Linked DNA regions of Homo sapiens. The protein of the gene in region 1 interacts with the protein of each later gene in a pairwise test. Each region holds a gene or a part of one and is shown on either strand. Other genes may lie near its edges.

Region 1 (3,824 bases):
TCCCTCCCAAGACCAACAGAATTGGGGAAAGGTCCCAAAGAGAGGAATCCAACTTTTAAAAACGGCCTCATTCCATACCTGAGTCAGGCTGCTCTCTGGCTCGCTCGCTCTCCTCTCTAACAAGAGTTATGTGTTCTTTCTGTTCTAGTATCAAAAAAGGTGATAACAAGGGAGTCATTTACAAGCCAGCCACCAAGATGGAGACTGAGGCCCACGCTTGAGGTCCCCGGAGCTCCCGGGCACATCCAGGAAGGACCTTGCTTTGGACCCTACACACTTCGGCTCTCTGGACACTTGCGACACCTCAAGGTGTTCTCTGTAGCTCAATCTGCAAACATGCCAGGCCTCAGGGATCCTCTGCTGGGTGCCTCCTTGCCTTGGGACCATGGCCACCCCAGAGCCATCCGATCGATGGATGGGATGCACTCTCAGACCAAGCAGCAGGAATTCAAAGCTGCTTGCTGTAACTGTGTGAGATTGTGAAGTGGTCTGAATTCTGGAATCACAAACCAAGCCATGCTGGTGGGCCATTAATGGTTGGAAAACACTTTCATCCGGGGCTTTGCCAGAGCGTGCTTTCAAGTGTCCTGGAAATTCTGCTGCTTCTCCAAGCTTTCAGACAAGAATGTGCACTCTCTGCTTAGGTTTTGCTTGGGAAACTCAACTTCTTTCCTCTGGAGACGGGGCATCTCCCTCTGATTTCCTTCTGCTATGACAAAACCTTTAATCTGCACCTTACAACTCGGGGACAAATGGGGACAGGAAGGATCAAGTTGTAGAGAGAAAAAGAAAACAAGAGATATACATTGTGATATATTAGGGACACTTTCACAGTCCTGTCCTCTGGATCACAGACACTGCACAGACCTTAGGGAATGGCAGGTTCAAGTTCCACTTCTTGGTGGGGATGAGAAGGGAGAGAGAGCTAGAGGGACAAAGAGAATGAGAAGACATGGATGATCTGGGAGAGTCTCACTTTGGAATCAGAATTGGAATCACATTCTGTTTATCAAGCCATAATGTAAGGACAGAATAATACAATATTAAGTCCAAATCCAACCTCCTGTCAGTGGAGCAGTTATGTTTTATACTCTACAGATTTTACAAATAATGAGGCTGTTCCTTGAAAATGTGTTGTTGCTGTGTCCTGGAGGAGACATGAGTTCCGAGATGACCCAATCTGCCTTTGAATCTGGAGGAAATAGGCAGAAACAAAATGACTGTAGAACTTATTCTCTGTAGGCCAAATTTCATTTCAGCCACTTCTGCAGGATCCCTACTGCCAACCTGGAATGGAGACTTTTATCTACTTCTCTCTCTCTGAAGATGTCAAATCGTGGTTTAGATCAAATATATTTCAAGCTATAAAAGCAGGAGGTTATCTGTGCAGGGGGCTGGCATCATGTATTTAGGGGCAAGTAATAATGGAATGCTACTAAGATACTCCATATTCTTCCCCGAATCACACAGACAGTTTCTGACAGGCGCAACTCCTCCATTTTCCTCCCGCAGGTGAGAACCCTGTGGAGATGAGTCAGTGCCATGACTGAGAAGGAACCGACCCCTAGTTGAGAGCACCTTGCAGTTCCCCGAGAACTTTCTGATTCACAGTCTCATTTTGACAGCATGAAATGTCCTCTTGAAGCATAGCTTTTTAAATATCTTTTTCCTTCTACTCCTCCCTCTGACTCTAAGAATTCTCTCTTCTGGAATCGCTTGAACCCAGGAGGCGGAGGTTGCAGTAAGCCAAGGTCATGCCACTGCACTCTAGCCTGGGTGACAGAGCGAGACTCCATCTCAAAAAAAAAAAAAAAAAAATTATTCTGTACCATCACAACTTTTCACAACGATGGCAAGCCTTATGTCTTGGGAGCCTGTTTTGCTAGGCAAAGTTACAAGTGACCTAATGGGAGCTCAAATGTGTGTGTGTCTCTCTGTGTGTTTGTGTGTGTGTGTGCACTCAAGACCTCTAACAGCCTCGAAGCCTGGGGTGGCATCCCGGCCTTGCCATTAGCATGCCTCATGCATCATCAGATGACAAGGACAACCCTCATGACGAAGCAACATGAATTAGGGGGCCTCTTGGCCTTGGTCCAAAATTGTCAATCAGAAATGAACATAAAGGACTCCAGAGCAGTGGGACTGTCTGTCAAAAGACTCTGTATATCTTTTGTGGATGAGTTTTGTGAGAGAACAGAGAGACCATTGTACCTGGCACAAGGGCTGTTCATGAAAAGGGAGACTTACTGGGAGGTGCAAGACAGTGGCATTTCTCCTCTCCTCTTGCTGCTCAGCACAGCCCTGGATTGCAGCCCCGAGGCTGAGACCAGACAAAGCCCGGGAGGCAGAAAGATGCTCCAAGAACCAACACTATCAATGTCTTTGCAAATCCTCACAGGATTCCTGTGGGTCCAGCTTTGGAACTGGGAAACCTTTCTTCGGATCCGCACTCATTCCACTGATGCCAGCTGCCCCTGAAGGATGCCAGTACTGTGGTGTGTGAGTCTCAGCAGCCGCCCACACGCTCCTAACTCTGCTGCATGGCAGATGCCTAGGTGGAAATAGCAAAAACAAGGCCCAGGCTGGGGCCAGGGCCAGAGGGGAAGGCCCTGGATTCTCACTCATGTGAGATCTTGAATCTCTTTCTTTGTTCTGTTTGTTTAGTTAGTATCATCTGGTAAAATAGTTAAAAAACAACAAAAAACTCTGTATCTGTTTCTAGCATGTGCTGCATTGACTCTATTAATCACATTTCAAATTCACCCTACATTCCTCTCCTCTTCACTAGCCTCTCTGAAGGTGTCCTGGCCAGCCCTGGAGAAGCACTGGTGTCTGCAGCACCCCTCAGTTCCTGTGCCTCAGCCCACAGGCCACTGTGATAATGGTCTGTTTAGCACTTCTGTATTTATTGTAAGAATGATTATAATGAAGATACACACTGTAACTACAAGAAATTATAAATGTTTTTCACATCAGGCTGTTCTTTTTTTTTTTTTGGAGGCGAGGTTAAAGCATTACTATTTGCAAAGCACTCTGTAGCTCCCTGTTATGGGGATAGGTAACTAATCAGAATAATAATGTCACTCGCATCCACTTCTTAGAACCTGGCTCCAAAGGAAAATAAGCTGATAGACTCAATCACTTTCCTGAGGATGGAGGCCTATGGCATGTGTGGCTGCAGGTCGCGAAGCTGCTTAATGGTGCTGGGAAGCCTAGAGGAATTAAATAAAGACCCTGGAGGAGGTGGGATCGGAGCTGCACCTTGAACAAATAGCTCAGATTTGAACAGATGGATGGAAAAGAGGGAGGTGTTCCCAACCAAGGGGACATGATACAGGGAACAGGTCCTATGTCTCTTTACTCCTGAGAGTATTAAACCTAGTAGGTGGGCAGCCCCTCTTGGTTGCCTGTTACCTTATTTTGAATTCTTTTTGCAAAACATACTATCACCCGTCCAAATAATCTTTTGTCTAAATCCAGACTTCACATTCTGACTGGGGCAAAAAGAGGCAGTCCAGTAAAGGTTATAAAATAGGTACCATCATTGTTTGCCTTATTTAGAAAAGCATCCAATTTTCACTATAATCACCCTAAGCCTGAGAGAGGTGAACTGTTCAAGGGTACTTTGGCTCCAGTGGGTGACAGTACCTGGCCCAGCTTTGGAATTGAAACATTTCTGATGGTCTGTACTCTGCTAGAACACAGGATGCTTCTGCTCTCCCTGCTCTGGCATCCTGCCAGGTGTCATGGCCACGCACAGGCATGAAGACAGCCGGGAAGCCAGAGTTCCCACGAAGCACTCACTCCTTGGACTTGCTCCCACC
Region 2 (3,824 bases), on another chromosome or scaffold:
CCTATACACATAGCCTGAAGGCAATTTTATGCAATATTTTAAAGAATTTTCTGCATGAAACAAAGTTTCAAATGCACCCCATCACACAAGGTCAGGTGTGGAATTTTCCACTTGTGGCATCACGTCAGTGCTCAAAATGTTTCAGATTTTGGAGCACTTCAGATTTTGGACTTTGGGATTAGGGATGCTCAACCTGTATTACACTAAATTCGTTTCAATTCATTATTATTCTTTTTTACTGGAAAAAGCATTGAGTGCTTGCTGGCTTTGTAACAGGCACATGCTAATGCTGTCCAGAGGGCTTCATAACCACGAGATATAGTGCAGTTATTTCAAATGTTGACCTAATTTTTCTAAAGTTACACATGTGGAGTAGAATATCAAATGGTTTATTTACACATTATATTTTGCTAAAAATATGCTATCATCTGTAGTGTGGAAATAGATGACATTATTAGAACAGATTCATTTACCTTATCTAGCATTAATTTCTGCTCTGTAATTATAAAGGAGTTTTACACTGAAAAGCTGTTTTTGATGAATTACTATTCCTTCCATATAACTTGAAAGAAACTCATCACTTGTTTTAACAGACAGCATGAGTATCTATGACGATATTGATGCTGACGTGCTGCAAAATTACCAAGAATACAATCTGGCCAACATCATCTACTACTCTCTGAAGGAGTCCACCACTAGTGAGCAGAGTGCCAGGATGACAGCCATGGACAATGCCAGCAAGAATGCTTGTAAGTACACAGTATGGACAGTGCCAGCAGGAGTGCTTGTGAGCACACAGTGAATCTCAGCTGAGAGGAGTCCGTGGCCGAGAGTAGCATCAACAACATTAACATGATATTCCTGTACCTGTAAGAAAGTATATCTTGATAGGTAGTTGATTTGCAAGTACTGTGAAAAGGTATCCTATGGAAGATGTAAAAATATCTTCATAACATTATTTGAGAGGCCAATTTTGGTATCCAAAAATTTCTTACTTTTAAATTAAGCAACAGAAGTTAGTTAACAAGTTATTCTACTCTAGTTTCAGATTTTTTATGTAGTGTTTTTGTTTTGTTTGTAGCTGAGATGATTGACAAATTGACATTGACATTCAACCGTACCCGCCAAGCTGTCATCACAAAAGAGTTGATTGAAATTATCTCTGGTGCTGCAGCTCTGTGAGTAATTGTAGATTGTCGCCTTCAGAGAATTTTTTTTCCTCTTGCTGTGTCTGCTTGTTTGGATGCTTAAAAGTTTTTCGTTTTTTTCTTTTGAAGTTGAAACTCATTGCTGAAACTTGCATCCTAACTCTTAGGCTATAAAGATGTGGTAAAAATGGGACCTCTTTGCTTTATTTTTATTGTTTCAGCTGGAAACACTCGGGCTTAGTTTTCGGTTTTCTAAAGGATTAGGAATGGGATGTGGATAATTCAGTATCATTTATGAAATCTTTTTTTGGAATTTAAACAATTGTAAGCCAAGCTTTCTGAGTTACAGGGCTAGTTTCAGATTTGGTTTTACATAAATCTATAAACCATTGCATGTTGGGAAGGTCCAGGAATTTTTTAATCATTATGTTTTTTAATCATTATGTTTTCTATATCAGTACCAAAAGATAGTATAGCCATCCCTCAGTATCTGCAGTGGATTGGTTCCAGTACTCACTCTCACCTCCCCCAGGATACCAAAATCTGAAGATCCTCAAGTCCCTGAAATAAAATAGCACAGTACTACATATAAAAAATGCACATCCTCTCGTATACTTTTAATCATCTCTAGTTATAATGCTATGTAAATTGTTGTTGTATTGGTTTTTGTTTTTATTATTTTATCATTATTTTTGTCTTTTTTCCAAATATTTTACATCGGCTGTTGGTTGAATCCATGGATACTGAGGGCCAACTATATACTGCTTTCCTCAAGAAAATTTCTTAGTTGTTGAAAAACTTTAATGTTTATGAAAAAAAGGTTAAGATAATGGGAATTTTATTCAAAAAGTTATTAAGTTGAATACCCACTATGTGCACAGTACAGTGCTAGACACAGTGTTAAGGATGTGATTCTCTCTTTTAAGGCACTTATATTCTAATAGGATAAGAAACATACAAGTAATTGTGATTAGATAAAACGTGTAGTAAGTTCTTTTTGACTCGTTCCTTCTTACCTCCTGCTAATCAGTTACCATGCTCTTTAAGTTTTACCTTCTAACTATCTCTTGAATCTTCCCCCTTCTTTATGCCCACTTAATGCAGATCCTTGTCATTTCTCTCCTGGGTTCAAAAAGGTAATTATTTGAGTGCCCCTTAAGTGTCAGGCCCTGTGCTAGACACTGAGGATACAGTGGTAACAGTATTTGCCTTCAGAGAGCTCAGTCTTCACAGTAAAGGCAGACACTAAATAAGAAGTCACAGCAGAACAGAGGTTGCTAAACTGTGGCCTGGAGCTAAGAATGGGTTCTGCATTTTTAAAGGGATATAAGAAAAAGGAGAGTGATAGCGTGTGACCCACAGAGTGCAGAATACTTGCTGTGTGGCCCTTCACCGAAAAAATTTGCCTATTCTTGTGACAGTGTTATGAGGAAAATAACAAAATCCATTCTCTGTTATACACTCATTCTGCAGAAACACTCGATGTATGTGATCCTATATTTTCTGGTCACCAGCACTCTTCCCAGTCCAGTCTCTTACCATTACCATTTCTCACGTCCTTGAACCTCAGCCACCTTGATCTACTTCCAGATCTACAGATTCGTCACTCTTTCTCGCGGCCAGGGAGTGGCATGTGCTGCAGCCTGAAAAGCCACTATTTCTTCCCTTGCTCCCTTGATTCTTCATCTGACTGCCTCCTGTGTATCCTTCCTTACTCAGCTGGGGGAATCCTTTCTTCCAGAAAACACTCCTTCCTTCAGTCTGAGTGAGGCAGCCTTCTGCAGCATCCTGTCTTCCATTTAGCTTAGCTCTTACAGCCTTGTATGAGGAATTGGCTTTTTATTTGTCTGTGTGCTCCTCGAGGCTAGGATGGGACCATATCTTATTCACTTTTGTGTCCCCATTGCCTGGTACATACCTCCTTCGTGAATGTTGAATGAATGAATGAAATGCCATATGTATTCAGAACTGGAAGTTCAGAAGAGGGACAAATAACATTTTATTGGGTGTATGAAAATGTGGGTCCATGGTTTTAAGAGTCAGGGAAAAGTTCATCACTATTTAAAGTGTTCCTTAAGTGTTACTTTTCAAGGGCAGAAACTGGGCAGAATGCCAGAGAGACACAACTAGAACTTTTTGAGCCAACAGAGACCTTTGTGTAAGTTGTTAGTTGGATCCATCAGCCTCGCTATCCTAAGCATTCTTCTCTTATTTTACTTTCTAAGCACAGCTGTGTTAGGACTAACCCATTCACAGCCTGGTCACCAATGTTCTATCAGCATCACAGAATACTGTCTCATGGTGTCTAGCTTGATGAACTTGGTTAGGATACTCTCTCTGTTACTCAGCTTTGTCATCTGTAACATGGGGACTAATACAAGGACTAAAACCTTCTATTAGCCATTATCCTTCTTGCCATCTACCCCATGTTAAAGCCAGGCTGATTTGTTCTTGGATCTTAAGTGTGACAAAGCCTGCGGGAAGGAACCACATTCTGAAGGTTTGTGGGCTGTGTGAGATCCAGAGAACCCAAGGGGGTTTTTTTGCTCTTGACAAACGAATGTTAGGTATGACCTATGATGATACAACTTCTGCAAAATTGAGGACCAGCCTATTTCTTCATTAGAAATGCAGGAAACCTGGCCGGGCGCAGGGGCTGACGCCTGTAATCTCAGC

Evidence for each region.
Region 2: the proteins of CA12 (region 1) and ATP5F1C interact in a two-hybrid assay, tested with the Homo sapiens proteins (one large-scale study listed by BioGRID and IntAct).

Annotation. Positions count from the first base shown.
Region 1 is NC_000015.10:63,322,682-63,326,505, reverse strand, and holds part of CA12 (carbonic anhydrase 12 isoform 1 precursor), read left to right. Parts: intron 1-148; coding exon 149-221; 3' UTR 222-3,824. UniProt on the Homo sapiens protein: Reversible hydration of carbon dioxide.
Region 2 is NC_000010.11:7,801,677-7,805,500, forward strand, and holds part of ATP5F1C (ATP synthase F(1) complex subunit gamma, mitochondrial isoform L (liver) precursor), read left to right. Parts: intron 1-593; coding exon 594-749; intron 750-1,081; coding exon 1,082-1,178; intron 1,179-3,824.